Linked DNA regions of Homo sapiens: regions 1, 2 and 3 are each linked to region 4. Evidence: fine-mapped expression QTL. A gene starts in region 4. Each other region holds a variant in brackets. All regions are shown on one strand. Distances are between the middles of the regions. Region 1 has its middle 42 kb from the start of LINC02695. Region 2 overlaps PICALM (phosphatidylinositol binding clathrin assembly protein). Region 3 holds the start of LINC02695 (long intergenic non-protein coding RNA 2695). Region 4 holds the start of PICALM (phosphatidylinositol binding clathrin assembly protein).

The links.
Region 1: its variant is fine-mapped to the expression of PICALM in whole blood (TOPMed, PIP above 0.99).
Region 2: its variant is fine-mapped to the expression of PICALM in whole blood (TOPMed, PIP above 0.99). The same link has a PIP of 0.9 or more in gastroesophageal junction, sigmoid colon, sun-exposed skin, tibial artery and tibial nerve.
Region 3: its variant is fine-mapped to the expression of PICALM in whole blood (TOPMed, PIP 0.99).

The regions. Positions count from the first base shown.
Region 1 is chr11:86,147,673-86,155,781 of GRCh38, forward strand. It overlaps the pseudogene RNU6-560P. Among named protein-coding and RNA genes, the nearest start is that of LINC02695, 42 kb to the right of the region's middle. RefSeq lists cis regulatory regions at 847-897, 3,593-4,103 and an enhancer at 3,694-4,194. The variant C/G (reference allele first, on the strand shown) is at 4,300.
Region 2 is chr11:85,974,588-85,982,696 of GRCh38, forward strand. PICALM (phosphatidylinositol binding clathrin assembly protein) reads right to left here. Exons shown (of 20, transcript NM_007166.4): 15 at 7,285-7,416; 16 at 7,158-7,188; 17 at 6,542-6,641; 18 at 2,036-2,095; 19 at 121-225. Among named protein-coding and RNA genes, the nearest start is that of PICALM, 90 kb to the right of the region's middle. The variant C/G (reference allele first, on the strand shown) is at 4,382.
Region 3 is chr11:86,188,640-86,196,748 of GRCh38, forward strand. It overlaps LINC02695 (long intergenic non-protein coding RNA 2695), which reads right to left and starts at 4,859. Exons shown (of 2, transcript XR_001748524.2): 1 at 4,794-4,859; 2 at 2,829-4,275. It also overlaps the pseudogene FNTAP1. The variant G/A (reference allele first, on the strand shown) is at 4,970.
Region 4 is chr11:86,065,140-86,073,248 of GRCh38, forward strand. PICALM (phosphatidylinositol binding clathrin assembly protein) reads right to left here and starts at 3,945. Exons shown (of 20, transcript NM_007166.4): 1 at 3,512-3,945. The coding sequence starts at 3,641. LOC124902731 (a long non-coding RNA gene) reads left to right here and starts at 4,785. Exons shown (of 2, transcript XR_007062823.1): 1 at 4,785-6,558; 2 at 7,179-7,362. RefSeq lists enhancers at 2,591-3,293, 3,294-3,995, 3,735-4,934 and silencers at 3,560-3,609, 3,680-3,729, 3,870-4,039, 4,190-4,459.

The DNA of each region.
Region 1 (8,109 bases), 83 kb after region 4:
TGGGCGAGGTGGCGGGCGCCTCTAATCCCAGCTATTCAGGAGGCTGAGGCAGGAGAATCACTTGAACCAGGGAGGCAGAAGTTGTAGTGAGCTGAGATCGTGCCATTGCACTCCAGCCTAGGCGACAGAGTGAGACTCCATCTCAAAAAATAAAAACAACAACATCAAAAAAGCCCCTTTTCTTTATTTTTTTGAACAAACACTTCCTTAGTACCTCTTATATTGCAAAGACAGCAATAGGCTGTTTGTTTCAAATGTAGAATCTGAAGACTTAGAATGGGGCAAGAACCAACATGTCCCTTTAAGGAGCTAGAACATGTCACCTCAAAGGCTCCCTCCACTTCTGCCACCTAACGCAGTTGCTTCTTACTCTAAGCAAGAAGTAACCTCCAAATCCTAAAAGTACATTAAGAACCAGTGGGACATTTCTGGGAAGCTCATTTATTTATTCTTTTTGTTGAGCAGACAAATATTAAGCATCAACTATGTACCCAGCACTGTACTGGGTGCTGAGGGTACAGGATTGATAAGATGGAGGTCCTATACTTTAAGAACTCATGGTTTGGGGTTGAGGTAGGCCAGAAAAATAACAATCCCAACAAACTAGAATCTGTTACAAGAGAAAAAGCCAGGAGGGAGTTGCTCACAGAACCTAGAGTGAGGAAAGCTTTAGAAGAGGTGATTAGCACCTAATATATGCTCCGTAGCTGCATACTGAGTAAATTTAAGTTTGAGCTGAGTCTTGAAGATGAGGGGAAGGTTAGCAGGGAGAATAAGAGGAGTAGGGAATGAACAAGATCACACATATCAGAAGAGTGTCTTTTGAGATTATTTTATCAGCAGTAAACTGGATGGGTTGAAAGGGAGAGATTATAGGCAAGGAGGTCAAGTAAAAACCTGGAGCAGTGATCCTGCTGAAAATTGAAGAGGACTTCATGTGCACTCAGCAGTAATTGGGACTGTGCTCAGTTTGCCTAACCTTAGCTTGCTCTCAGTGGTATGGTGCACGGCTTGTAATTGTTATTCGCATCTCCCCATGAATGCATGCCTGTTCTCCCTCACTAGGGTGGAGACTGTCATTGACTGAAATCCTTATAACACTTAATTCTGTACCCTGCACCCCATGCATCCCCATCAAAAGCTGGGTTGATGATTGGATTCCTCGAGCTGGCGTGGGAGTGGGAGAGCTGGAACAAGGGAGCAGGGAGAGGAAGGGAACCAGGGCTGGCAATGAGGGTCAAAAAGCATTTCATGTTATCTTAAATTTTTTTCACAAGTGTAATGATGCCTTTATGTGTTCATGACTTAATTAAATAGTTTTTTTTAAGGTAATAAAATCATTAAGAATATGCAGTATTGCTTTTCACTGCTTTTCTATTTTTCCTTTTCCTTTTTGTTTGTTTGTTTGTTTGTTTGAGATGGGATTTTGCTCTGTTGCAGGCTGGAGCACAGTGATGCAAGTATGGCTCACTGCAGCCTTGACCTTTCAGGCTTAAGAGGTCCTCCCACCTCAGGCTCTTGAGTAGCTAGGACCACAGGGGTGGGCCACCATGTCCAGCTAATTTTTTTTTTAGAGATTAGGGTCTCACTGTGTTGCCCAGACTGGTCTCAAACTCCTAGCCTTAAGCAGTCCTCCTGCCTGAGCCTCCCAAAGTGTTGAGATTATAGGCATGAACCACTGTGCCATGCCCAGTAGTGCTTTTAATAGTGAAAAGTTTGAATTACCTAAATATCCAGCAATAGAAATATTACCAAATCAATCATGATACAATTTCAATGGCAGAATTTAACAAAAATAATGTTGTTGAGGTATGTTCACAGATATAAAGAAGTTAGTATTTTATAGTTCCACTTAAAAGTAAGTAGATATTAATTACTATATTCTGAATTATCCCATTTTTGTTAACAAATATATGCACAAAAAGGTTTAAGATACCTTTATATAAGAAGTTTATGTAGTTTCTACATCAGCGGGATTCTGTTGTGCTTTCTTTTACTTCTCTATTTCCTAATTTTTAAATAAAAAATAAATAATAAGAAAACCCCAATTTTTAAAAATGTTAATGAAATGAGAAAACTGAACTAGGAACAAAGAGAGTAAGAAAGCTAAGAGGAAAAAATGTACCATGGTGCCATGGTGGATGGGGATAATAAAGAAAGTAGAGAAAAGACGTTCTTGGAATTGTTTTTTTTGAAAGAGATTTTCTTATTTTCCATAAAGTTAAGGGGAAAAATATTTTTGTTCTCAGAGTTTTTCAGTGTGCTTTCCAAGCCATCAAATTCCTAAATATAACCAAAGTTGATGATTTTACAAGTAAGCCAATATAAACATAGTAGATGTTTATATTTCAACATTAACAACGTGACATTGGAGCTGCAAAAGATCTTCCCAATTGGCCATATTTTATTTTTCTCAAAAGTTTCCATTTTCAGTCCCCTTTTAAAATACATCCAGTCCCCCCTCCCCACCCCCACTCCACCCCTTTGTGGCTTTAAAATTTCAAGAAAAGGCAGAACCAGATTAACATAGTAAAACTGGGGACAGAGCATGTGGAAGAAAGGAGCAAGAGGGAGGTGGTAGAAGGTTACGCATTTGGGGAGGAAGAGGAAGAGAAGGAATTTTTGCAGAGCCTTGCCTCAAAGAGGTACTACTCAAACTTAGTCAAATCATGTAGGCTCTTGTTAAAATGCAGGTTTTGATTCCGCAGATCTGGGTGGGACTCCCTGGTGATACCCATGCTTACTGGTCCATGGACAACTTTGAGCATCAAGGCCTTAGACTCTGGGACTTTGCTCTTCCACCCTGGTCACATTTCACATGGGCAGCCTCTGGCTGTGATAACCTCTTTCTTTCTAACCTAATAGGGTTTTATTTTATTTATTTATTTATTTATTTTTTTGTCAAAATACCAAATATTGGAAACTTTTCAGAAAGTAGTTTAACCATGAGCAAGGTACAGTTCAAGGTACTCTCCATGGAAGAGAGTAAAATGGGAAATACAATATGGAATGGGTAGAAGCCCCTGATATACGAATGTTATTTGTTATAAAGGGCGTGGTGTTGTGGAAAAAGCCCTGGACTGGTTGTCAACAAAACTGGCTTCAATACTAGTGATTACTAACTAGCTATATGCCCTTGTGCCAGTCATTTTTCTCTGGTTCTCTGTTTCCTTTCCTGTTAAATAAAATAATTGGTCTACATGGCTTCTAAAATCTTTTCAGTTCTGACACTTGAAGAATCTATAAAGGAGATCCTATATCAATAGGAAGGGAGGGAAAGGGATGTGCCACCACACGCGCAGCTGCCAAGGATCCTGTACATGTGGTATTACTGTGGTGGAATCTCCCATTTGTCTGCCCAGATGCAAAAATGTTATTGGAGTGAGAGACTGGGAAACTTGCCTGGTATGAAATCCTAGTACCCCAACTTCCTGCTTTTGGCAATTTAGAGTCTTGGGAATCAGTCCCAGCCCCTATAAAATAAGGCAGACCCTGTAAACATGCCTTCCAAGAGCCTCCAATGTAGCTCTGACAGCTTTCAAATTCTAAGCTCCTCAATCCTCCATTCTCAGGCCACCCTCAGGTTTCACCTCATTCCCCTGTACTGGTCAGCAGCCAAATTCTGCAGCCTCTTGAGCTTAAGGTCCCAGCCAAAAAGCCTGACTGCCCTCCTACTTGTGAACAAATCCCAATTCTTGAAGCAACCCCAGCCCTCCCCAACAGACTCCCTGCTGAACCCTGAGTCTCCCAGATACTCAAACTTAGTTCAGCCCTGTAGCAATCAAGCCTCAGGGATTTGGGCTGGCTGGAAGCTGACACTTCTCTGTTTAAGATAGTCCCATCTGCAGAGTGAGGATCAGCCCCTAAATTGATAAGCACAGGGTGGGAAAGCGACCTGCCCTAGTGAGATTACCCAGACTCTAAAGTAAGGTCCTGCAGCTCCACCTCATACCTCCATGGACACACACTCTTTGGCTTTTAAGTTATGAAACAGACCTGTTGCTATTCTAAGGAAGTCTCACAAGTCACCATATAAACATGCCAGCTTCAGGCAGCTTCCTGTGGTTTGCCAAAAACCAGCTGGGAAGGCAGCCAGACTCCCGCCACCGTCCTGGAACCCCCTCCTCTAGCAGACATTCACTCAGGGCATGACCTCCTGAGGTGCCCACTTGGGATGCAGGAACTTAGTGGCTGCTAGAGTTGTTATTTTTCCCTCCAGCCCCAGCCTGGGCTGGGCTGAATGATGTGGCTGGCTGGTACAAAGGCTGCTTTTTATAATGTTCTTCTTTGGTATTTTTG[C/G]TGTCTGGAGAGGGCTTCCTTTCCTCCCACAGTTAATTAGCAGCATCAAGCATTTCCCTTTCTCCAAAAGAAGTCTGTTCCCACCCATGAGGCCAGGCAGAGGAGGTGGCAGGTGTGGCTAAATGCCCCCTGAGGTTAACCTCAAACTTAAACTTAGAGCCCTACTTGGTTAGAAGTGATGTGAAATGCAGGGCTAGCTTCCATTCTGGGCAGAGTCGGCAAGTGGGCACACGTCCCTGGCAAGCTAGCATCCCAATCAGGTGAGGGGACAGAGAAGGGGGTGGGGAACCAATGTGTGTTTGACACATTTGTGAATTGTTTCTACAACAAAGACTTTTTTAAAACAACAGAGTGAAGCTTTATATATTTGAATGAGAAGCACACAGAAGGACCTATTGTCTGGAGGAAAAATTGCATGAGTAATTGTGCATGACTTCAGACTTCCCAGTTGAAATGTTAGGCATATTAAGGATGATTGAGGGCATTCCAGTGTTTTCAGTGTGGAGAAGAGGGAGGACAGAGCTCCCAGGACTAGGGGAGGGAGGCAGGTTGTGTAGCAAGACAAGGGAGGAAGGAATCTGAGGAACTCTGTACCCCACTTTGCTCTCTGGTTTCCATTTTTCCTCTATTTAATTGAACTGCCACCTCCTACAGGAAGCCTTCCTGACCCTATCTCCTTCCTCCACCTGTCACTCTAGGTGTTCTTCTTGATACATATCTCCTGTCTTTTCATTATTTACTTGACTATGATACTGTGGATGGGCCATAGAAAAGAGAGGATGGACTCCAGATGCCACTTCCTAGATGTGTTACCTTGGACAAGTTACTTAGCCTCTCTGTGCCTCAGTTTTCTTGTCTATAAACAGTAATACCTTGTAGGGTTGTTGAGAGGATTAAATGTGTTAAAACCCATAAGGAACTGAGAATAGTGCCTGACATACAGTGTGCACCCTCAATAAATGTTAGCAATTATTTATTTTTATTTGCATCCCCTCTTGTTTGCACAGGACCTAATATATCATGGGGCAGCTGTGTTCAACCCTCATATGCATCTTAATTGCTTGAGGAGCTTTAGAAATGTACAGGCCTGGCCTGGGCTCCATTAATCTATGGGTGAAACCTGGTAATGGTATTTTGGAAATGTTCCCTGGGTGGTTTTATTATGTAACCAGGTTGAAAACCAGTGTCATAAATGCTCAAGGAATATTTGTTGAATGAATGAATGAACCAAATGGGATCAGAAAGAACAAACCCCATGCTGGCTTCGGCAGCACATATACTAAAAATTGGAATGATACGGAGAAGATTAGCATGGCCCCTGCACAAGAATGACACACAAATTCATGAAGTGTTCCATATTAAACATATATATAGAGAGAGAAAGAACAAACCCAGGTTACCCCATCTTTAGGAATGTGAAGGCATGATGATTCTGTCTCCTTCAGAAAGTTGATTCTTCCTGAGACAGGTTTCAAGAGAAAAATATGACAGAGAATATAATGGAATACATGAAAGAAAGAATCATAATCCTAGTCATCTCAACATGAAAGTATTGAAGAAATAGAAAAACAATTGCCTAGAGCTCATATTAGAGATCAACAGTTATTTTCTCTTGCTCTCCCTTCTGTGTATGCAGATTTATTTCCTGGAGTTGCTATAACAACTCTAGCTAGAAGGTGAACTTTGACTTTTCCTCTAGTTTTAATTTCGATTTGCTACTCAATCTTTAATTTAGAGGACATAAAAATTTATCTCAAATAAAGCATTTGCACCACTCTAATGTATATTCATGCATGATGATAGCATAATTATAATTAACTGCTTTACCTAGTTGGTCCACAAAATTTAAACTGATTACTGCTTGTAGAACATTAAGTCAGGCACCTCAAAATGGAAATAGGAAACTAGGCCGGGGTGGTGGCTCACACCTGTAATCCCAGTACTTTGGGAGGCCAAGGAGGGCGGATTGCTTGAGCTCAGGAGTTCAAGACCAGCCTGGGCAACACAGGGAAACCCTGTATCTACCAAAAATACAAAAATTAACTGGATGTGGTAGCATGTGCCTGTAGTCCTAGTTACTTGGGGGGCTGAGGTGGGAGGATCACTTAATCCCAGGAAGTCAAGGCTGCAGTGAGCCATGAAGGAAAATTAAATTTAAGAAAAGAAGATGCTATATACAAGGAACAGTGACAAGGTGAGAAACTAGCAAACCTACAGTTGTCTAAGTAGTTTTTGATGCCTAATATTTAAAAAGTTAGTAAAAATCTTGCATTAATTCCCAAATGAAGAGAACGGGAAATTTTAGAAAATAAAAATACTTAAATATAGGAATAAATATTCTTCATGACCTTACTAAACAACAACAAATAATGGGAGAGATGTACCATTTCCTGAATGGAGGATCAATAATGTGAAGGTGTCATTTCTCCTCAAATTGATCTAAAAGGCTGGGTGCGGTGACTCATGCCTGTAATCCCAGCACTTTGGGAGGTAAAGGTGGGCAGATCACTTGAGGTCAGGAGTTCGAGACCAACCTGGCCAACATGGTGAGACCCTGTCTCTACTAAAAATACAAGAATTGGCTGCCGTGGTGACACATGCCTGTAATCCCAGCTACTCAGAAGGCTGAGGCATGAGAATCACTTGAACCTGGGAGGCAGAGGTTGTAGTAAGCCAAGATCACACCACTGCACTCTAGCCTGGGCAACAGAGTGAGACCCTGTCTTAAAAAAAAAACAAAAATTGATCTATAAACCGAATAAAATCTCAATTAAAAAACCAGAAATATACAACAAAAATACTATAAGCAAAAGTTAAAGAGTGAAAAGGACAGATTACTTGCCAATTATACAACAGAAGATTAATATCCTTAATACATAAAGAGTACTTATCAATGAATATAAAATACAAATTAAACTATTAAAAAATGAAGCAAGGAATTGAACAGTTAATTAAACAGAGGAAGAAATGTAAGTGGTCAATAAGCATATAACAATGTTCAGTCTCATGGGTACATAAGGAAATGTAACTTAAAATAAGTCTGAAATATTTTTAGTCTTCAGGTTGTAAAAAATGAATAAACAATAAAATCCAACATTAGCAAAACTTCAGGGGAAATGACACTCTCAAACTCTCTGGGAGTATCAGTTGTTATCACGGTTTCTAGAGAGCAACTTGGAAGTATGTATCAAAATTTTCCATTTCTAGCTATCTAACCTGGAGAAAAGTTTGTAGAAGAGTCCATTTACACTGTAAATTAAGTAAAAAATAGAGAGAACACCAGGAGGCTCCCATAGCACAGCCAGTAAACAGTGCCAACACTGGAGTTAAAGTGCTGTGGTTCAAATCCCTGTTTGGCTACTTACTAGTCCTGGGGCTTTGGGTGAGATTACCTTAGCTGCTTCAGCAGTCAAGTAGGGATGACAATATGCAGTACCTATTTCATAGGGTTATTCTGAGAAACATTTTGCATGCCAGGTGCGGTGGCTCACGCCTATAATCCCAGAACTCTGGAAGGCAGAGGCAAGAGGATCGCTTGGGGCTAGGAGTTCAAGAACAGACATGCAAAGGGCTTAATGCCAGGGATAAAATACTTCCCTGTGCCATGGTAGTCCACCCCTCTCTTTCCCAAACCCCTAACCGTGTATGCCATTGCAGGTTCCTAAATATGTAAGTGCGTAGAGAAACTTATGGCAGAAACTGATAGCACGGTAACTTACAGAAGAAGGTGGGGTTGAGTGGGAATATGTAAGATTTTTACTTTTTACTTTCTACTTGTTTATTTTAAAAACATTTTGCAGGCCAGGTGCA
Region 2 (8,109 bases), 91 kb before region 4:
ATCCATAATGAAGGTAGAAAGTGCTAGTAACTTGTTTCTCAAGTTGTACAAAAGGGTTTTATAGTATCATATTCCTTCCAAATCAAACACATTACCACAGTTACATGTAGTGTGTAATACCTGTGCTCCTGATACAGGGCCAAAGGGGTTTGGAGGTCTCATGACAGGCTGGCTGTATATTAAGGTTGGTTGCGTCATTACAGGAACACTTCCCATTTGTGGAGGCTAAAAAAGAGAAAAATATCAAAAGATACTGACTCCTATCTTCCTTATTGTGACTAAGTAAATAACAATGACAACAGGGATGACAGGTCCTAGTACCTTTGCTTGACTCAAAGGGTAACTTCCTCTGAATATAAGTAAGACTAACAGCTACAAACTTTCGAGAGTATTTTTTTTTCTTTTGGTAAGTAAAGTCTTTAACATGCTCATTTTTAAAATGTAGTAACAAAGCCTAACTTTTTCTATTCAATGAGTTGCAAAATGTAAACTTTATTGTATTACAACAGATAAAATGATTAAGACTAAGAGTTTCCAAATTTATCAGGTTTAGACATCAAGAAAACTTAAGACTCTGTCTTCGCTGCTAAGAAATTTCAAAGTAAATTTGTATAACAAATCAAGTACTTTTGCCATTATGCAAGTGATCACAAGTGAAGACAGTTGATTCTCTGAATAAGCCTGCTCTAGTTCTTCCATTTTATTTCATATAAGAATCAAGAAAGAGCTTAAACTACAAACCAGAGGTTAACTCTTTCTTGAGTAACTGAAAATACAATCTCAACCAAATATGTTTCTTTAAAAATTACCACTACAGGGTATAAAATTAACCTAGTAAGTGACAATACCTAGTGTAAAAATAATGCACAAACAGAATACTGTTTTGGTTAAAATGCAATGCTCTAAAATCTTTCCTTTCAAGAAGTTCTATTTATTGTTTCAAGCAGACTACTATTTGCATTTAGAGCTTCATTTTAAGTTTATGGCCTGAGTTTCTCAGCAGACTTTTTTTTTTTTTTTTTTTTTTGAGATGGAGTCTTGCTCCGTTGCCCAGACTGGAGTGCAGTGGCATGATCTCAACTCACTGTGACCTCTGCCTCCTGGGTTCAAGCCATTCTCCTGCCTCAGCCTCCCAAGTAGCTGGAATTACAGGTGTGCGCCACCATACCCAGCTAATTTTTGTATTTTTAGTAGAGACGGAGTTTCACCATATTGGTCAGGCTGGTCTTGAACTCCCAACCTCAGGTGATCCACCCACCTTGGCCTCCCAAAGTGCTGGGATTACAGGCGTAAGCCACCACACCCAGCCTCAGCAGACATTTTAATGCAATGACTATGAAAAAAAGCTGTGAAACTTCTCCACATGTATAAAAGGAGTTACTTCCATATCATATACATAAAGAAGTAACATAGCAGGCACAGTAGCAATACCAAGGGACACGGTACTGCCTTCTACCAGGAACAGTTCCTCAAATACATACCAGTGGGTTGAAGCTACTAGCACCATTTCTTTTCTAATTGAGTCTCTATATACTGAGAGTTGGGAAACTAAGGGCAATCTAAAATGCACATTGTGGCATTTTGAAAGGTTAAAAGACTGTTTTTGTACTGTAATAATCATTGTCACAGGAAAATTTCTCTAGCCTTTATCAGACTAAATTTATCTCTATACAATTCAAGTGTTAATCCCTCCCATGCCCTACAATATCAGGTTATAAGACCTCACTGGTATTTAATATATGGTCACAGCAACAAAGGCTTAGAATTAACATTAATGTTTGAAATATAAAAGGCCCAGCAAAGTTACGAGGAGAAAAATAAACCAAGTAATACTATGAACATTAATGCATAAGATCTCTTGTATAATGATTATTCTAGACATACTTATGAAACCAATGCTATGGTTCTACTGCATTAGGCACTAGGGCTAGGAGTATGAGGAGCACTAAATTCTTTTTTAGGTTAAATTGTAATAAAAACATGTTATATATGAATCAATATTTTTTCCAAAAGCTGTACCTAGGAAAATACTTACAATTCCATATCCTATCATGCCTGTTGGTGTAGTAGCAGGATAGGCCATTACAGGGGGTGCCTAACATAGTGAAAGGAAAAATGAACAAGAAAGTATAACTCATGTGTGTCAACTGAGTTCAAGGAATTAGTAGCTGTAGTTCCACTAAAAAGAATTGCTAAGACAGCTGTGAGTAAGTGACACTTGTGATCATTAAGAACTGTCGATTAATGGTCAGTGAAAAAAAGTGTTTTGAAATTAGCAGAAAAGCAGACTTATTAGAAGGATAACTATACCACTTAAACTTAGATACAGCAGTGATCTAAGATTTCATCATGCTTTTTACAGCTTTAAAAATCTTTAGATTTAAAAAAGTATCTTAAATAGTTCTAAATAGTTCTAAAATTTAAAGCCTATCACTATCATTAAAAAATGTCTACCCAGAAAAAGTATTATTGAATGTTTTCTTACTTAGGTACCTGATTGCTTTAGCATTCAAAGAAAAAAATGTAAAGATCTCAAATCAATCAATAACCTGATCTTCCAAAAAGTTAGTTTCTAAGGATCTTACTCACTCTTTTCAAAAAACTCCAAAGGTTTCAAACTACTATTGAGTATGACTATTTCTATGAGCCATAGTTCTTATATAGAGTATGTACGTTAGCTTTCTAATTTATTCCAAAAATTATTTAAGAGGAACAATCAATTAGGTCAGTTTATGCTTTCATGTTTAAAAGAACCATCTATCACTATGATGTTTAAGTTCCCCTCTTCCTACTACTTTGATTATCTGTAAACATACAATTTGAGAACAGAATCATTTTAGATATAGTTGCTGTCTTAACAACATTTCCTGTGTGTGTTTCTCATAATGAAAACTGAAATTGAATAAAGGTGAAAGACCAATAACACTGCTAAAACATAAAATAACTGAAATTATATGGCAATTTGAACATATGCATGGAGAAATTAAATGAAATATAACTTTAAAAAAATAACACTAAAGTGAATAGTTATAAGTTTAGTATTCGGGTGAGCGTGTAGGACTTATTGGTCTCTCCCTACTTAAAACCAAGATCTGCAAGAGCAGTAGACAAACTGCCAAGAAGAGCAGAAGCCTGTAAGATTTCATGCAGTTGTTATTTTAAACATTACCACAATCAACATTTCCCTTCATTCAGAAGTCATCAAGTGCATAGTGGCAGCACAGATACACACACAGACACCCAGCCATCTGGCAGCAAATGGCGGAATATTAAGCAAGAAAAAAAATCGGTATTTCCCATGCCACCATCAGAATCAATTCTGCAACACACCCATGAAATCAGTAGATGCTAGGAAGAATTTCTGGCACATTGAAAATCTGAATGTGAAAACAAGTAATAGCTGAAAGGTTATGAGATTCTGCTACAGCAGTGGTTAATAGCATGCCAATTTATTGCAAAAAGGCTCGTTTTTGGTCACTTACGTATTGTGGAAAATGCATGCCATTCTGTTTTTCCCAGGGAGAACAATTACATAATGCAATAACACTGGATTAGAACAAGTACTTACACAACAGAAAATACACAGAGAGCATTTTAGTTCACATGTACATTCACTAACTACCTAAAATCCCTTGTATTTCCAGTATCTAATGAAAGAACATCTATACTAAAACACTATCAAGGTTGACAAGGGAATTGTAGTCTTTGGCCTCATCTCTTTATATAAAAAATAGTTTATTGATTACAAGTACCATTAAAACATCAATTCTATCAACAGTGTCAACAGTGCAAAATTTTGGGCATTGCATAAACAGGGTTGCATCAGATGTCTACCACAGAAAAAAAGCAAGCACTAATTAAAAGAATTTGTAGTATAATATATATTTTAATAAAATTCCAATGAATTTGTGTTAAATTTAAAAAACACTGAAAAACCTTGACAGTGTTTAAGGATTAATAAAAAGGTTAGAAATGTAAAGAAATGTCAAAAGCAGCAGTTTATCTTAAGTAGTGAATCACATTATCAGCCCCAAACATTAGCCATTAAAAAGAAAACTCCATAAAATACATATAAATATTTAAGCAAAATCCTTAGGAGATGATACACATTACCATATATAACACAGCAAGATAAAGACTGTTACCTTATCAACTTAAATACAAATTCTACATGACTAAATACCTACTACATTTTAGTAGTCAGTCTTAAGTGCTATCTATGAACTCCTAATACTTCATATAGATTAATACTAACTTAATATAAGAAAATATTCATTATATTTTAATAGCAGCACTGGTATTTATATCATTCCTCATACATCATCAATGTCATAATTCACACGAGTCCATAAAATCCACTACTCTAAACTCCTACCATACC[C/G]TAGTCAGTGAGGTGTGTTATAGTGGGAAGAAGACTGGATTCAGAGTCAAAGAGATGGATTTCAACTTAAATCTGCTTTTCAACTGCTTTGCACTTAGGGAAAAAAAAAATCTTTAGAAGTGGGGTGATACATGCTCCAATTCCCTCAAGACAGCAACATTTACATGTTTAAGATTGTGTATTTGTGTGTATAAAAATCTAAACTACTTAAATGCAAAGTTTTAAAATCAGTGATGATAGGCTGGGCGTGGTAGCTCAGGCCTGTAATCCCAGCACTCTGGGAGGCTGAGGCGGGTGGATCACTTGAGGTCAGCAGTTCAAGACCAGCCTGGCCAACATAATAAAACCCAGTCTCTACTAAAAATTTAAAAATTAGCTGGACCTGGTGGTGGGCACCTGTAATCCCAGCTACTCGGGAGGCTAAGGCAGGAGAATCACTTGAACCTGGGAGGCAGAGGTTGCAGTGAGCTGAGGTCGCGCCACTGCAATGTAGCCTGGGCAAAAGAGCAAGACTCCGTCACAAAAAAAAAAAAAATACAAAATAATAAAATTAGTGATGGCAATGAACACTGTCTGAAAGAAAACAAAAACAACAACAAAAAAACACTGCCTTAAAAAGGTAGCTAAATCTCAATATTACTTTCCATTTATGAAGTCTTAAGCTATATAATAAAATGCACAAATTTTAACAAACATACTATTTTTAGCTCAGTCCTACTAATTTTAACATATCATTAACCCACGGAAAACAGGGCAGTGCTCTGGAAGTGGCTATAAGGACAACCGCAGCCTCTAACAGTAACAGGACAGCTGTCAGTAACGTGTAGCCCGTGTAATCAAAACACAGCTACTAGCCTACTGTCTGGAGAAAGAATGCTTCAAACTTTTCCACAAGGAGTTTTCTTTGACTGACGAAAATTTGTTGGTTGGTAAGATAGAAACTGGCCAAGGACAGGAGAATAGCCACAGAGCTATTCTGGGTCTACCATACCTTACAGTAATTAAAACATACTAAAACCTCTTCATTACTAGATGCTAATTATTTAATTAGAAAATACAGTTAATCCTCATTATTCATGGATTCCATATTTGCAAATTCACCTACATGATAAACTTTGTGACACCAAAAATCAACACTCCTGGTGCTTTCAAGGCCATTCATGCTCATTTGCAGAGGGGCAAAAATTTGACTCATCCAATACAGTTCACCTCCAGCTGAGATGGAACAAAGGACACTCTGCCTTGGTTCAGCTCTCATACCAGACCAGAGGATAGAGAAGGAGGATGGGGAGTCCATCATACTGCAAGAAACTCTGACTCTGGGGCCAGCTGGACAGGGCTAAAATTCCAACTCTGGCACCAGTTAGTGCGACAGCCTTAAGCAAGTCACTTAACACTTCTGAACTTTATTTCCTCTTTCATAAAATAAATAGAATATACTAGAATGAGGTTTTCTAAAAGGACCGTCTATGTGACATATACATATATGCATATATTTCCCCCAGCAAGGGTTCAGTGTTCACTAATTCAGTGTTTGGGGTGACTTAAGTACTTAACTGCCACAAATAATGAGTATCAACTGTGTAAGTTATATGACATATATATAATTGCCAAACACATTGTCATATATATAAATTATATGACAAAACCGAAGCAAGTATAGTTTCTTTACCAATAATGAAATCACAAGATTTTGTATTTTAGAAAAATAAATAAAAAATTTGAGGTCAGTAATATAGAGTAGTGATTAAGGACATATGTTCTATAGTTAGGCTGCCTAGGTTATAAAAATTCAACTCATCATTTAAGATCTCTGTAATCCTGAGCACATTGCTTAATAACTCTGAGCCTCCACTTCCTCATCTGTAAAATAGGGATAATAATAGTGACTAACACATTAATAGGAGGATTATAAAAAATAAAACATTATTATTTACTGGAATATGTCTGGCACAAAGTAACCCTTAAATACTTGTTAGCCACTAAAATGTATCTGGTAAATATAGGCAACCAGCTTCCTTTGAAAGAAATACAATTACTTATACTTCTAAACTCAGTAACAATCCTTCTATTTATGTCTATCACTTTAAAAACATTTTCATGTTACATATTTAACTAAATTATTCAACTGTTAGTCTATCAGGAGCTTTTTCAACTCACCATTGTTGCAGCATTCCAAGCGGTTGTTGGTGCAACCTTTGGTTGCCAGTTAGATCCCCCAGTTAACTTCTTTTCACCTGGTTGACTCCAATTTACATCACTTTAAATAAACATAAGTGAGAATATTAAATGTCTCTAATTATAAAGTTTCCTTAGCTATATACTTATATAGAACAGAGTAAGATAGAGACTTGAGGCTGGGCGTGGTGGCTCATGCCTGTAATCCCAGCACTTTGGGAGGCCAAGGTGGACAAATCACTTGAGGTCAGGAGATTGAGACCAACCTGGCTAACACGGCGAAACCCCGTCTCTACTAAAAATACAAAAAAATTAGCCAGGCATGGTGGTGGGTGCCTGTAGTCCAGCTACTTGAGAGGCTGAGGCAGAAGAACGGCGTGAATCCGGGAGGCGGAGCTTGCAGTGGGCCGAGATTGCGCCACTGTACTCCAGCCTGAGCAACAGAGCGAGACTCCGTGTCAAAAAAAAAAAAAAAAGATGCAGACTTGATATCTCTACACATATTTTTGAGAGGAAAGCCAAATCAACCCTCCAAATAACACATGGAGAAAACACTAAATAACACACGGAGAAAACAATGTGTATATTAAACACTCACTTCTTAGTGGTTCCATTTCCGATGCCAAGATCTAGGAAAGGAGAAAAACAAAAAAGCATTTTATAACACGAGACGCAGTTTAATAAAACAACATAAAAGAAGATTAACGTATCCAAAGACTACTTACTGCCCACAAGGTTGGCTAAAGATGAATCCAAGTCATCAGATACTAACTTGCTAGGTGGGAGTTTGGCAACAGGAAGGTTCTGGTTCTGAGAGGCCACTGTTGGTTTGAGAAGTCCACCTAGTTCATCAAAGCCTTAAAGTTACAAACAGACGAAATAGAATTTGTAAGGAACTTTATGACGCTATGGTTTTCTAAAGGAGGTCTTTGCCTTTTCTCCTTGTTTATTCACTGGAAAAGTTATCCAAAAAATAGACATTAGTAAATGTCTTTAAATGGAAAATGAAGAAAGTCACCACTTCATACTGAATTGACTGAGAAGGCTGTATTTGCTTTGACAGAAATCATCTCTTATCTCATGACAAAATTACATTAGGGTTAAAGGGGATAAGAGAGAAGTATTATAAAAGAGAAAAAAAACAAATGTAATTCTCCTGCTAGCCCAGCAAAATTTTCTGAAGACTCACTTATATCTAAAGCAATATAGGTTAAAAAATAGCTCTCTGGAACTTTGAAAAAAGTTCCTTTTACGTTAAGAAATAAGATTTTATAGACTTTTTTTTTTTTTTTGAGACGGAGTCTTGCTCTGTCGCCCAGGTCGGACTGCGGACTGCAGTGGCGCAATCTCGGCTCACTGCAAGCTCCACTTCCTGGGTTCACGCCATTCTCCTGCCTCAGCCTCCCGAGTAGCTGGGACTACAGGCGCCCGCCACCGCGCCCAGCTAATTTTTTGTATTTTTAGTAGAGACGGGGTTTCACCTTGTTAGCCAGGATGGTCTCGATCTCCTGACCTCATGATCCACCCGCCTCGGCCTCCCAAAGTGCTGG
Region 3 (8,109 bases), 120 kb after region 4:
CTTAAAGTGTACATCCAGTGGTTTTTGGTATATTCACAGAGTTGTATAACCATGACCACATCAATTTGAGGACATTTTTAGCATCTCAAAAAGAAACCCTGTACCTTTTACTATCACATCTGAATCCTCCCTCATAGAAATGGTTTTATATAACATGTGGTCTTTTGTGACTGCCTTCTTTCACTTAGCATAATGTTCTCAAGATTCATCCATGCTGAAGCATGTACCTACTTTATCCTTTTTATGGCCAAATAATACTCCATTGTGTAAGTATAGCACCTTTTGCTTATCATTTTATCAGCCAATGGACATCTGAGTTGTTTCTACCTTTTGACTATTATGAGTAGTGCTGTTATGAATATTTGTGTACAAGTTTTTGTGTGGACATATGTTTTCATTTCTCTTGGGCATATACTTAGGAGTGACATTGTCAAACGATAACTCTATTTTTAACTTTTTGAGGAACTTCCAGGTTGTGTTTTCGAAAGTGGCTGTACCATTTTATATTCCCACCAACAATATATTGAGGGTTCCCACTTTCCTATGCCCTCACTGACGCTTAGTGTGCTTTGCTTTTTTCACTCAACATTATTTCATAGATATGTTTCCATGTTCACTTGGTTATCATTTTTAATGGTTACACAGCGTTCCAAATCAGTTAGTTGGATATTATTTAAAAATTACTTTAAAGCTCAGGACTTGGATTGTTTTCATTTTGTGCCATTATAAATAGTGGTACTAGAATCTTCACTGCTTACTACATTTTTCCTTTAGCTTATGTCCTTGAGGTATGTTCCAAAGTGGAACAAAGGGCACATACAGCTCATGTACTGCTTCCCTGGTTAGTCTGCAGAAGAGTTGACTGTACCTAAAATGCTATCAGCAAAGTTTGCACTTGCCTTCCTCTCCACAGCCTCTGCCAACATAAGGCTTTGTTGCTTTATTTGTGTATATTAATGATATAGTTACTGTATTAGTCTGTTCTCACACTGCTAATAAAGACATACTTGAGACTGGATAATTTATAAAGAAAAGAGGTTTAATTGACTCACAGTTCCACATGGCTGGGGAGGCCTCATAATCATGGCAGAAGGCAAAGGAGAAGCAAAGTCATGTCTTACATGGTAGCAGGTAAGAGAGTTTGTGTAGGGGAACGCCCATTTATAAAACCATCAGATCTCATGAAACTTACTCTCTCCCATGAGAACAGTATGGGGGAAACCATCCCCATGATTCAGTTATCTCCATCTGGCCCGGCCCTTGACACATGGGGATTATTACAATTCAAGATGAGATTTGGGTGGTGACTGAGCCAAACCATATCAGGTATAGGTACATGATAGAATCTTATTTTTTATTTTTATTTTGAGACAGAATCTCACTCTGTTGCCCAGGCTCAAGTGCAGTGGCACGATCTTGGCTCACTGCAACCACTTCCTCCTGGGTTCAAGTGATTATCCTGCCTCAACCTCCCCAGTAGCTGGGAATTACAGGCATGCACAACCACATCCAGCTAATTTTTGTATTTTTTAGTAGAAATGAGGTTTCAGCATGTTGGCCAGGTTGGTCTCAAACTCCTGGTCTCAGGTGATCTGCCTGCCTCGGCCTCCCAAAGTGCTGGGATTACATGTGTGAGCCACCACACCTGGCCTGAATCTTAACAATCTTAGGCTGTTTCGATTTGTATTTCTTTCATTGTTGGTGAACTCACAATATTTTAACAGCCATCAGCTGTTACTCTAAGCCATCCATCCAAAAAAGCCAAGCAGTGCAGGAGAATCTAGGGCCATAGCAAAAGGCAGAAGATGGAGCTTAAAGAAATTCCCTGGGTTTGGGCAGGGCGTAGTGGCTCACGCCTGTAGTCCCAATACTTTGGGAAGCCAAGGAGGGGAGATCACCCGAGGTCAGGATGATCTCAGGTCAGGTTCGAGATGGTGAAACCTCATCTCTACTAAAAATACAAAAATTAGCCTGGGCGTGGTGTCAGGCACCTATAATCTCAGCTACTTAGGAGGCTGAGGCACAAGAATAGCTTGAACCCAGGAGGCGAAGGCTGCAGTGAGCTAAGATCGCACCACTGCACTCCAGCCTGGGCGACAGAGTGAGACTCTGTCTTTAAAAAAAAAAAAATTCCCTGGGTCTGGGAGCAGGCTCAGGAGGTATGTTTGATAGCGTGACTGCAGCCTCAGCTGTAGATGAAGAGGACACTGGTAATGATGCTGAACTGATTTAGACATCATATCCTTTTCCACGTTCTCCTTTCATTTGGCACTTCTCCTGGTTCTGCTTCTCCCTCCCTGGCCATTCCTTCTAAGCCTCCTTTCAGCATTTCTTTCCTTCTACCTGCTTCTTATACATCGGTATTAAATATAGGATTTCATTATTGGATCCTTCTTTTTTAACTTAATACTCTGGGCAATCTCATTCACCCCCATGGCGGTAATGACAATTTAAATGCTGAAAATTCCCAAATATGTATTGCCAGCCTAGACTACGCTCTTGAATTCCAGAAGCACATATCTAGTTTCCAACTGTATATCTCCATTTGAATGTCCTCTAGGCACCTTGAGTCCAGTATCTTCCCCTCCGATCACTCCTTTTTTTCCCCATATGCCCTACCTGTATGACTGTAGCAACATCAACCCAGTCACTGAAGCCAGAAATGTGGAAGGCACTCCAAACTCTTTCTTCTGCACCTACATATTCCTAAATGTGCACCTTCTTCTCCCTAAACCTATTACACGAATTTGATTAATGTTTCAACCATTTCTCCCAATAACTCTAGCATTGTTACATGTATTAGGGTTCTATTGGTTGCAACTCGTTGCTTCAGAAGGGAATGGAAGAAGATTTATTGGATGTATACTTGTGTGGAATGAAAGGAGAAACTGAGAAATCATTGTGGAGAGGCAGGCTTCAGAGTGGCTCCGGGGACCTCAGCAGCAAGCAGGTTGCTCTGGGCCTTCTCTGGAGAGTCTCCTACGAATAGACTTGGTTCCAACAATGCTTAGCCTCTGCATCTCTTGGATCAAAGTTCCAAATTTCTAGGGAAATCTGGGGACCAACAAAGATTAAGAAGTTTAGGAAGTTTGAGTCATGTGATGGGGACACAGCTCTGGAGGATGACTTCTATGTATTAGAGGCAAATATCAAAGAAAAAAGAGACGGCATGAGATGGACAGTCTTTCCAGAAATTGTCTATGACATTGCCACAGTTTCTGAACTGGTCTTCTTGCCTCTGGTCTTACATTTCACCAACCCACATTGTGCATTCTCTTCCAAAATACAAGTCTGAGAGAAAAAAAAAAAGAAAACTATAGGCGTGAAATCCTTCTTCATCTCTTACTAAGTCTTGGACTTTGAGCAACAGCAACTACCATCTGAGTCCCTCTGATCTGCTAGCACTGTGTCAGTACTTTACATATGTTATATTCATGACCACTCTGCAGGGCAGATATTGTAATTACTGTGCAAAAGAAGAAAGTGAGGCTTGGAAGGAATTAGTAAGCTTGTCCTAGGGGCCCTGACTGGCAAGTAGCAGAATTTACCTGATTCAAGGCATTTATTAATGGATTATACTCCTTCTCTGAGATTTGCAGTCTCTTGGTTTATAAAGTGAGTATAACTTTTTTGTTTTTCAGGATTAATGTTAGAATTAGGCAATACTGGCTACATAATTTGTGAGGCCCAGTGCAAAATGAAAATGCAGGATGGCCCCTTGTAAAGTAATTATTAAAAATTTCAAGAGAGCAACAGCAGGGCATTAAACTCAGTATGGGGCTCTGTTTTTGGGAGGCACCAAACACCCAAACCATATCAGGATGTGAAACCATCTTTGGGGGACCATTATTCAGCCTACACAATAACAATATTCTTATTCTTATTATTTTGTTGTCCTTATTTCATGCTTCAGTGGTTTCAGAATAAAGTTCAAACTCTTTTCCAGGACATGGCTAGCCCATTGTGATCTGACCCATGCCTATCATTCTAATTTCAATTCTTTCTATCCCCCCACATGCATTGAACACTCCAGTAACATTGAACAACTTGTGATTTTTCCACTGCAATCTGCTGTCACTTGCTGACCAGCCTCTTTCATACTGTTATTTCTGCACAGAATATTCTCCCCCATTTCCCCTTTTCACCATTCTTCTTCTCTTTCAGTTCTGTCTGATTTTATTGTTGTTGTTTTTAATACTTAGCCCAGGTTTTCTCCTTGGAAAACTTCTCTCCACCACTTATGATCTTGGAAAAGTTTCTTCTCTATTTTCACATCTAAAGAATGAAAATCACAGAATAACACCTGCATTATTATGAGGCTCAAATGACATAATCCACATAAAGCACTTGGCAGACTGCCTGCCAGGTGGTAAGTGCCCACAAAAAAATTATCTGTAATTATCGTAAATATTCTTTGACCTTCCCCCATGGTGATATAAGAGCTTTCTCCTCTGTCCTCTACTAGCAACCAGAGCATAGAAGGTGGCAGGCTTTCCTGTAATTTACTGCTCATGTGTAAGTCTGTTCTGCTGTACTGACCATTCTTTGAGATCAAGAGCTCAATTGTTCATTTCCATATCTTTAGTGCCTAGCACAGGGTTTGGACATATGGCAAGTTAATACTTATTGAAGCAAAATAGGGAAATAATTATTAAGAGGACACATGCTAATTCTGTTCTCAGAATATTTTTTAAAACATTCATTCCATTCTTATGTTCCTGCAGTACAAGTCTAAAAATATTTCATTTGTCTACCTTCTATTTAAATAAAAGTGCAGCATTAACAAAACCTACCCTGTTGAGCCAAATTTCCTTTTGTCTTGCTTTGCTCTAGTCACTTCCTCTTTTTTTTCTTTCTACTTCCTCCTGGTAAAGGTCATTTCTTTCTGTGTCATAATCTCACCTTTTTTTTTAAAAAAATAATGTCAATGTTTTTCCCAAAATATGCATTCCCAGAAAGCTGCGTAGTC[G/A]TTACCCGTAACAAGGAAAACCCCACCCTTCCTGTCCCCCGCTGTGCTGCAGCCCTTGAAGTCTCCAGGGTATCTGTAACCTTAGCATGGAGTCAGTATGAGCTCCCTCTCCTGGCAGGTTATAGTCATGCTAAAGCTAGACACGGCTAGAGTATCCCAGTCACACATCCAGAAATGATTATAAAGCATGAGATAACCCAGGCCTTTCTGTTCCCTGAGCTCAGATTTAAGGCAGGTGTGGGGCTATCTAATTTGTTTGTAAAATCATTCGCTTGACAGGCATCACAGAGATCTGAATCCCATCCTACTGCTTGGAGGAAAGAAGCTGCACCGTTTATGAAAAGAATAAGAATTTGGATTTGTGCCCTGTTCTACCACTTATCTAGCTGGCTGCTCTTTTGTCAAATTACTAATACCTGCAAGCCTCTGGATCTTCAACTTTAGGGTAACATTAGACCTATTTCACCTACCTTATAGGGTAGATGTAAATTTTAAAAACAATATAAAAACGGTGCTACTTATTGGGTAATAGCTATGCTTCAGGCACTGATAGGTGCATTATCCCTATTTTGTATATGAGAAAACCACAGTTCAAGCAGTTGTCACATAGTAACTCTGTTAACACATGGAGAGCCAGGATTCATACCCAGGTCTTTCTGACTCAAAAGCCTTTCTTGATGTTTTCCCTTTAATTATACCAGACTAATGTTCCTGAATCATGCATCTGAAAACATTTGGGGGAAAACAAAAGTAAAATTCTATACTACGAAGGTAAATTTTTATTTTATAGATGTTGAAATTGAGGCCCAGAGAAGCGCAGTAACTTTCCCTAGGAGTTGGTGGCAAATACAACTCAGTAGTTTATTAAGGACTCAATAGTATTTACCCAATAGGGCTAGCAAGTGTGCAGGCTACTCGGGTGTTAAAATGTAGCTGCACCCAGGTGAAAGGGCAATCCAATAAAGGTTTCAGGTACTTTACACTTTTTTTCACATGCTTTCCACTTCATGGTTGCACTGGACAGCTTAGGTGATACAATCTCAATGATACTGTCCAGATCACGAGGGTTTCCTGAGTCCTTGTTGTGAAACACAGGAGGCCCTCTGTGTGACTTGGTCCCAGCATCAATTTCCAGCTTCATCTCTCATTAGGTCTCCTGGGTCATCATCTAGCTCCAAACCTCCTCCTCAGTCATAATGAACTGCTTGCAGCTCCTGGAATGCATCACATGGATTTGTGCCTCAGAACCTCCATTCCTTTACCTAGAATATATTTCACCCGCTGAGCATCTACTTATTTTCCAAGACTCTGTTTAAATGTCACTTTTTGGATACAGTCTTATTTGATCTCCTACCACCCCTCCCCACTTGAGATAGAATTAACCATTCTCTCCTTTGGGCCTCTAATATCTCCTCTTCATATTTTTAATTGGGACATATAATGTTTTTATTGCACCAATATGCAATAAAACTGGTTTGTTTGCACTTCTGTTTGTTAACACCTTAAGAATAAGGACCATCTTGAGATGGCGGCCACCGAGGGGGTCGGGGAGGCTGCGCAAGGCGGTGAGCCCCGGCAGCTGGAGCAGCCCCCGCCCCAGCCGCACCCACCGCTGCCCCAGGAGCAGCACGAGGAAGAGATGGCAGCAGAGGCTGGGGAAGCCGTGGCGTCCCCCATGGACGACGGGTTTCTGAGCCTGGATTCGCCCTCCTATGTCCCGTACAGGGACAGAACAGAATGGGCTGATACAGATCCAGTGCCGCAGAATGATGGCCCCAATCCCGTGGTCCAGATCATTTATAGTGACAAATTTAGAGATGTTTGATTACTTCCGAGCTGTCCTGCAGCATGAAGAAAGAAGCGAACGAGGTTTTAAGCTAACCCGGGATGCTGTTGAGTTAAATGCAGCCAATTATACAGTGTGACATTTCCGGAGAGTTCTCTTAAAGTCACTTCAGAAGGATCTACATGAGGAAATGAACTACATCACTGAAATAATTGAGGGGCAGCCCAAAAACTATCTAGTTTGTCACAATAGGCGAGTAATAGTGGAATGGCTAAGAGATCCATCTCAGGAGCCTGAATTTATTGATAATATTCTTAATCAGGATGCAAAGAATTATCATGCCTGGCAGCATCGACAATGGGTTATTCAGGAATTTAAACTTTGGGATAATGAGCTGCAGTATGTGGACCAACTTCTCAAAGAGGATGTGAGAAATAACTCTGTCTGGAACCGAAGATATTTTGTTATTTCCAACACCACTGGCTACAATGATTGTGCTGTATTGGAGAGAGAAGTCCAATACACTCTGGAAATGATTCAACTAGTACCACATAATAGTTCATGGAACTATTTGAAAGGAATTTTGCAGGATCGTGGTCTTTCCAAATATCCTAATCTGTTAAATCAATTACTTGATTTACAACCAAGTCATAGTTCCCCCTACCTAATTGCCTTTCTTGTGGGTATCTATGAAGACATGCTAGAAAACCAGTGTGTCAATAAGGAAGACATTCTTAATAATGCATTAGGGTTATGTGAAATCCTAGCTAAAGAAAAGGACATGATAAGAAAGGAATATTGGAGATAAATTGGAAGATCCTTTCAAAGCAAACACAGCACAGAAAATGACTCACCAACAAATGTACAGCAATAACACCACCCAGAAGAACTTGATGGAATGCTTTGATATTTTATTAAGGGACTCTGCAGGAGTTTAAAATGAGGGTGATCCTTCCCTTTGCCTGTGGCGTAAAAATGCATCACACAGGTATTGCTTTTTAACAAGAACTGACGCTCCTTGGGTGCTGCTGCTACTCAGACTAGCTCTAAGCCATGTGATTGTTCTAAAGCAAAGTCATTGCATGGGAAGAGGAAGAAAAAGTCCCATAAACGAACTTTTGTAGTCTTATCAACATGTAATCAAATCCCTTAGCATCAGCTCCTCCCTCAGCGGTACACGCGTCAAGATTTGTAGCAGTAATAACTGCAGGTCACTTGTATGTAATGGATATGAGGTAGCTGAAGTTTGGTTCAGTAAGCAGGGAATACAGTGGTTCCATCAGAGCCAGTCTGCACACTCACATTATCTTGCTATCACTGTAACTAACTAATGCCAAAAGAACAGTTTTGTAAT
Region 4 (8,109 bases):
AGAAGTTATAAATTAAAAATTGTGGGCCAGGCACAGTGGCTCACACGTCTGTAATCCCAGCCCTTTGGGAGGCCGAGGCGGGCGAATCATGTGGTCAAGAGATCCAGACCATCCTGGCCAACATGGTGAAACCCCATCTCTACTAAAAATACAAAAATTAGCTGGGTGTGGTGGCATGCGCCTGTAGTCACAGCTACTCAAGAGGCTGAGGCAGAATCTCTTGAACCTGGGAGGCAGAGGTTGCAGTGAGCCAAGATCGCACCACTGCACTCCAGCCTGGCGACAGAGCGAGACTCCGTCTCAAAAAAAAAAAAAATTTGTTTTTTCTATCCTGCAATAATTATGGTTCTTTTAAGCATTCTGTACTGCTAAATGGAATTAGAAGCTACTTTCTATGTATATGAATTGCCCCCACCTCCAGCTGTGAGACAGGATTAAATGAGATGATGAGAAAGTGCCTGGAAAACTGAAGTTCTTCAAATATAAGGGCTGCTATTCCTCTACCTTGATTATGGCTACTAAAGGCCTAAGATTAAACGGAAATCGTGTTTATTTTTACAAACATATTTCAAGTTTGACAACTCTTTCACACTAGGGATGCTAGTCAACACTATTATCCACTAACACCTACAGTATAAGCAAAGCAAAAAAATCTTTCTTCAGTAAGTATATAATGTAGTATGAATTAAGCCATAATTCATGAATTATTAATAATCACTTCCTAATGTGGAAAGATCTTGGCGAGAAACTGACAGAAACCACCTCCACACTCTAAGGGCTTATACGAAAAACAACAGTCCTAAGCATATTTTTTGTTAAATGCTGCCATTTTAAAATGAAATCATTTTCATTAGATTCATATAAATAAGCATCAGTTGCTAGGGGCATTAAAAGGTGCACATAAACTAAGCTTTCACTATAAAGAAAAATTCCTAAAAGACAAAAAATTACTTGAAATGACAGGTTTCTGTATTAAAGCCTAAAGTTCATGATGTCAACACCATGAACTGTCCGTAGAAGACTTTTTAATTTTCTCAAAGCATGTTAGTGTGTGCAAGGAAGGTATTTGTTTAGTAAACCACTCACTGGTCAGACTTTACCTAAGATAAAGGTATTTTATTAGTGAGAACTGATTACAGGACATTTTAATCAACAATGTAGGGAAAATAGTATCCCTGTATTTTAAAACCTCATTGAAAAGAAACAGAAGCACATTAACGACACATATATTTTTAAATCAAATACTACCAGGTATATTCAAGTTCCAAAAACGTGGGAGCTTGTAAACACAGAAGTGGTAGAGAAAAAGAACGACAAATGCAAGATTATCCTCCAAACCTAATCCCAGTTACCATCTATCTGCAGTAGTGGCTATAACAAGAGAAATAGCTAATAACATTTATGAAACAACATGCAAATAGCACTCTTCTAACCCTACCTATTTTCTCCTCTTTTTGACAATGCTTTAAAAGAACCACTGCTACATTTGAAATAAGACACAAACCTTTACAAAAAAAACTTTTAAAAGCCTTATCGATTCTTATTTTGAATGAGGAAAGAGGAAAATAGTTCACACAGTCACAACTAGTTTCTTCATACTCCCATACAAAAAAAAAAAACAAAAAAAAACCAAAAGCAACTAACAAAAGAATTAACACAGTGTCAGGACAAACTGTAAGATTTGGTAGGGCAAACCAAGTAGTATTTGAAGAGCCGTAAATAGCAGAAACGTCTACTACACGTATCAGATAATCAAAAAATCACATATGGCTTTACGATGCATTTTAAAAAGTTTTCTGTTCATAAGAGTGTCACCATTTAAACATATTCTCCATTCTCTAAGACAAGCAAGGACTGAGAGTTTAAAAGCAGCCTGCATGCATATCTGAAAGAATCAAGCACTAATGCTTTTTTATTTAAAACTTTTTTCCACAGTGGAGGAACAATCACAAAGAATAATAGGCTTCTGTGTAGCAAAAACTTGTTCTAACAGCATTCATGAGCACAGTAACTTGGAAGAATCTACATTTCGTACATTTTTTTTAAAGTGCAAACTTTACGGCCAAAGTCCAAATGAGAAATCAAAACAGGCTTCCAGACAGTGAATTATCTTTCAGGGCATGCTCACTCTTGCTTCAAACAGTAAAACAAAGTAACTTTCATGTATGATGAAAGTCAGTCAGACTAATGTGTCCAGTCATTTAAAAAGGGAACTTACTTATCGTGACTATTGCCCTATTTTTCCCTGAAAAGTTTCAGGTCTAAGCTCCATTGGCTTGAGTGATCCAATGAGCTTTGTACCCTGGGGTAAAAGAGCGCAAAGAAAAAGGAGGGTATTACAGGTGACTTCCAGGTTAGAAAAAAGTTACGAGGAGTTAGCTCTACTAATTGTATCTACGTTAGCGAATGGACGAATACTATGTCGTGTAAGAGAAGCTAAAGCTAGTTCCTCAAAAGGTAACTGGCATAATTAAAACATCCAAACTCAAGCATCATCAAACATCATTTTGCCAATTTTTTTAAGGGATGTATGTTATTTGTAAGTAAATTTATTAATCCATTTGGAATTCCAACAGTCTACGCTTAACACTCAAGCTTCTGAATTCAAGCCGCCAGAATTAACAGTTCCAGGAACTGATAAGAGTATCAGCAAAATGCCTTTTTCCATATCCCCATGTGAAAAGCTGGGGGGCAGAGCTGACAGTCACAAACTCACCCCAGTCAAAAGTATGGACAACACAACGATTAAATTCCACCAGAGGCAAATAAAAATCCCAACTTTCCAGAAAGCTTTCCCTACACCAAATTGAATCCTTTTACTTTCACTCCCACAAAGAAGGTAATCTGAAATAAAAGTCGGGTAACTGGGTATGGTATTTAAAATGAGTCGAAGAAACTACACTGAAGCTACTATAGAGGCGATGAAAAGGTAACCCAAAAGCAGGAGGGAAGGTGGAACAGAAAGCCAGGAAGGGATGGGCGAAGCAGCTAGTGGAGCAAAGGAAGTGGGGGATCCCTTCCAGGGAGGCAGCCCGGAGGGATAACAAGGATCTGGATGCAAGGAACCAGGCGTTTACTGAAACCCGAAGGAGGCTGATGAAGAAACAATGGGGCTTGGAGACGCTCAGACGAGGGCGACGAGGCGGCACCGGACGGGTGGGAAGGAAGAGCAGAAGGCTGCAGTGGAGACGGGTAGGGGGTGAGAAGCCAGGTGGGGAAGCAAGTTGGTTGGGTATGATGGGGTGTGGTAGCGCACCGGGCAGGGAGACGAGGGTCCCCTAGGAATAGGGAGGGGAGTGGCTTGTCAGATTTTGAGACGGGGAGCGGAGGCCGTGAAGGCAGGTGTGATGGAAGCAAAAGAACACAGCTCAACGGGCACAGGACCGGCCGTGCCAGAGAAGACGCAGGGAGGGAAGAGGCAGTAGAAGGGTGAAAGACAAGAGAGAGAGAGAAGGACGCGCGCGGGTCGCGCGGGCGCCGGGGAGCGGGGGCCGCGGTCGGCTTCACTCACAGTCCAGGTGCTTTTTCTTGGGCCCCATGATCTCGTGGGTCGTGGCCTTGCATACTGTCTTGGATACGGCAGAGCCGGTGACACTGTGCTGGGCGGCAGTGATTCGGTCCGTCAGGCTCTGGCCGGACATCTCTGCAGCTCCTCCACCACCCCACCCGCTCAGCAGCCGGCGGGGACTGGGACCCCCAAGAGCCGGAGGGTCCCCACCCCCCACCGCACCCCCTACCCCCACCGGCTCCTTCCCCGCCTGCCGGCCTGGGGCGCGGTTCGGGGCCGCGCGCTGCCACCAGTCCAGAGAGAACCGGCTCGTGTCACCCGCGGAGTCGGACAAGATGTCGGGCACTCCCTTGCCCCCGCCTCAGTTCAGCCCACCCCTTCCCGGGTCAGCTGGAGCCGGGCAGGGTAAGAGGAACAGGCAGCTGCAGGAAAATGGCGGCGCCAGGCTCCTCCTCGGAGCTTTCCGGGCTGCCCCGGGTCACGTGACTCGGACACCGCCCCTCCTCCCTTCTCCCGCCCCTTTCCCCTTCCCTTTCCTCTTCGACGCCCGCCCTCCCTCGCTCAGCGAGGGAAGAGCTGGGCGGCGCCCGCGCGTTACGTGATGGAACTCGCCAGGCGGGCGCAACAGGAGGCCCGCCCGAGGGGAGTGCACAGCCGGCGCATCACGTGACTCTCCCTGCCAACAGGTCGCCTGAGGCTCGGCCCGCGGGGTCACAGACGCCGGGCGGGGCGGGGCGGGAGAGGAATGGCGAGGGCGGTGTGCTGGCGGGGGTGGGGCGGGGCGGCAGGCTTCTCCCCTTATCCCCCCACCTCAAGTGTGTCCTCGTGTCTGTGGTTGAAACCAACAGCTTGACAAAGGAGGTGCAGCTGCCTTCACAGCTTCCCCTGAAGTGGGGGGTATTAGGCCTCTGGCTCCCCGAGCTTTCCCAGCAGAGTCAAGAATGTATTTCAAGACGCCTCCCAAAGCCGCCCTCCTGGCTTAAAGGAGAAGGTTCCAAACGGCCTATTTTCTGAACCTTCCAGCAGGCCTCTCTCTACCATGGAACTATTGAAGCTCTCCTTATTTACTTACCCCAGAAAGGTTTTTTCCCCCCTTTCCTTGAGAGGCTTGGAAATGTCACCTGGTTTTGTTTATCTCTACTCCGAAAACCCGACACGTTGCTGCCATTCTAAATTTAGATACTAGCTGGCCGGTATTCATTCTCTAGGGTGTGGAATAGGACAGGAAACACATAGCTTCACTGGAATTTGAAAAGGGAAGTAGTAGGATGATGTCAACAGCGATTAGCTTGACCCTACATGGCTGACTGCTGTGGTGATTAAAGGTCCAGACCATAGAAGGAAGTGAGAGGGGCGGTAAATGGAGAAGTCCCATTCAAACAGTCCAGACATCACTGCCTGCCATCTCCCCTGGTTTAGTCTTTCTTACCTTTGGCCTCTTTTCTCTTATTGGGTGAGCCAGATTTCCATGGAAAGACGTTGACACTGCCCTGTGGACATTTTAAAAGAAGTATTACATCCTGAAATACTATTCAATGAGACCCAGACCATACATTAACAAAGCCTTTTATATGTTATTAGAGCCTCTACATTCAACCCAGGGTTAGGGATAAGTTGAAAAATATGTGAGTGCTAAGTTACCATGATAGTCACATGTAATCTTGCTAGTTTCAAATGAAATGCTAACATTCTCAGAAAGTCTGTGTACACCATCTGCCAGCCAAATCCAAAATACTGTGCTTCAATCTGGTGACTCTCAAAGGATGCAAAGCTGATAGATATTTAACATTTTATGTATCATATCAGGAATTTTGTGGTCTCCCATTTTCCCCACGCCCCCTCACCCCTCTTTTTTCCCCACTATGGCTGGTGAAATTCTGCAGCAACATGCTCTTGCCAAGAACACACAAGTTTTTAATCCCAGCAGGCTTCATCTTTGTCAAGCCAGCCTCCAATTTCACAAAACTATAATGAATTCCTTCAGTGTACTGCAATCCATCTGTGGTTTGGTGCCCAGTTTGCTGCCCCACGTCCACTGGGCAGTGGAATTACCAAATTCTCAAGACATGTTATCAGCCATCATTGCTACTGGTCTATGGGTTCCACTGTATAAGTTACTGATTGGCCTGAGCCTCTGCATTGGTAAACCCCAATCTGAGGTCAACACTAACATGGTCTAGCTATCAACAGCTGAATATTTTATCCTTAGGGAAAATGCCAGTCATTCCTAAGTACATAACAGGAAAGTATTACACTATTACTTTTACCAAAGAGGTTCTTTCAGACCACTTTTGTGACAATAATTGTTGACATGTTTACCCTATTAACAAACAAGCTGCTGTTAGAAATATTTTATTTTTTTCCAAGTATACATAGTAGAATTTCTAACTATGTAAATAATCAGTAATCATTGAAGAGGTTTATGTGTGGTTGTGAACTGAAATATATGGAGAAATTTAAAAGAAGATGGGGAATTGTTCTAAGGGTAGACATTACTGACCTATGTTGTCTTATATGCTTAAGTTTTCTGTGTCAGTTTCCTTGGTCTATTCAGGAAATATCTCTACCTGAAGTTCCACAGATGCCAACTCACCATGGCCAATACTGAACTTCTCTTGCCCTTGCCCAGCATCCTACATCTTTAATCCATACTGTTCCCTATATCCGTTAATGGCCTCACCACATGTCCAGAAGCTCCGCTCAGAAAGCTGTGATTCTGAGTTCTCCTTCTGTCTTATTTCCCTCATCAAGCCTAATCTACTTTTATCTCTCAAACACATCCCATCTCTAACCCCACTTCTGTTGCCTTAGTTCCAGCCTTTATGATCTCTGTTATACTAGACTGTTTTAGTAACTTCTTAGCTGATTCTCTGTCTTTTATACCCTGACTCTCCAATTCAGATCCTTCTGAAACCAAAATGTGATTGTCTTTTCTTTGCATTAAAATCTTCCAGTAACTCCCCCATCGCTACCCTAAAGGATGAAATTAAGAACTCTCAACCTGGCATACATGGTTCTTCATGATCTGGCCTCATTTTAGAAGTTTCTAAGTATGTAAATAATCAGTGACCATTGTAGAGGTTTATGTGTAATTGTGAAATGAAATACATGGACCAATTTAGAAGAAGATGGGGAATTAGAACTAAGAATAGGCATTACTGACCTACTTTATCTTATATACTTAAGTTTTCTCTGTGTCAGTTTCTTCAGTCTATTTAAGAAATATCTTACCTGAAGTTCCACATGTGCCAACTCACATGGCCACCTAAACCTGTTGAGCCTTGTCTCTTCCCATTCCTCTAAATTCCCCTACCTACCTACTACTTGTTGAGCCTCATCTCTTCTGATTCCTTTAAATGCACTCCAGACAGTATCACACTACTTGACATACTTGGATGTCATGCTGTTTCACATACCAATAAGCAGTTACTGATTTCCTTTTGTTACTCATATATCCTTCTGTTCTCTAATTATTATTGTGATTGACTAATTGCACTAACATGGGGGTGCAGAGATACATCCATGCTAGTATTATGGTTGATGCAAGGTAGATACACAGTAGATGGTGATTGAACGAATGAATGAGAACGCTTTGAAATCACGCATTCGGACACACCATCACTCCAAACCTCTCATTTGATAAAATCTGCCCACTTTTTCACACATTTAGCATGTCTACTGGGCATGGAGGCATAAGCCTATAGTCATAGCTACTTGGGAGGCTGAAGCAGGAGGATCCCTTGAGCCCAGGAGTTTAAGCCTGCAGTGAATTATGATCCTACCACCGCATTCCAGCCTGGATGACAGAGCAAGACACTGTTTCTAAAAATAAATAAAGCATGTCCATCCCATAATTATCTGGTTGGAGCATCATCCTTATTCAGTACCTTGTTAATTAATTTACTCTTTCAAAAAATATGTGTTGAACTGTGTGTCAGGCATAAAGGTTCTAAGTGCCAAACACTATTTACAGTGAACCCATCAGTCCTTTGGGAACTAGTTAGTTCTCAACTTGAAGGCCTCTTTGCTTTGATTGTAAAGGAGCAGACCAAAAACAGAAGGAAAAAACTTGAATAACACATTTCCTAGGTATTTCCTAGGCTCTTCCAACTAAAAGGTATGTTGTAGAGAGGCAGGGAGTGTTCGGAGAAGGAGCAGGTTTTTTTTATTGCCTCCTATGTGCTAAAAACACTACATTTTAAAAATGTAATGCTCATAACAATAATTTCAAAAAGTATCATGTCCAAGTATCGTGCCCATCCAATACAAGAAAACAGACAAGTCTTGGAAATTTTTTTTTTTTTTTTTTTGAGGCAGTCTTGCTCTCTTGCCCAGGCTAAAGTGCAGTGGCATGATCTCGGCTCACTGCAAGCTCCACCTCCTGGGTTCACGCCATTCTCCTGCCTCAGCCTCCTGAGTAGCTGGGACTACAGGCGCCTGCCACCACGCCTGGCTAATTTTTTGTACTTTTAGTAGAGACGGGGTTTCACTGTGTTAGCCAGGATGGTCTCGATCTCCTGTCCTTGTGATGCGCCCACCTCAGCCTCCCAAAGTGCTGGGATTACAGGCGTGAGCCATCGTGCCCGGCCAAGTCTTAGAAA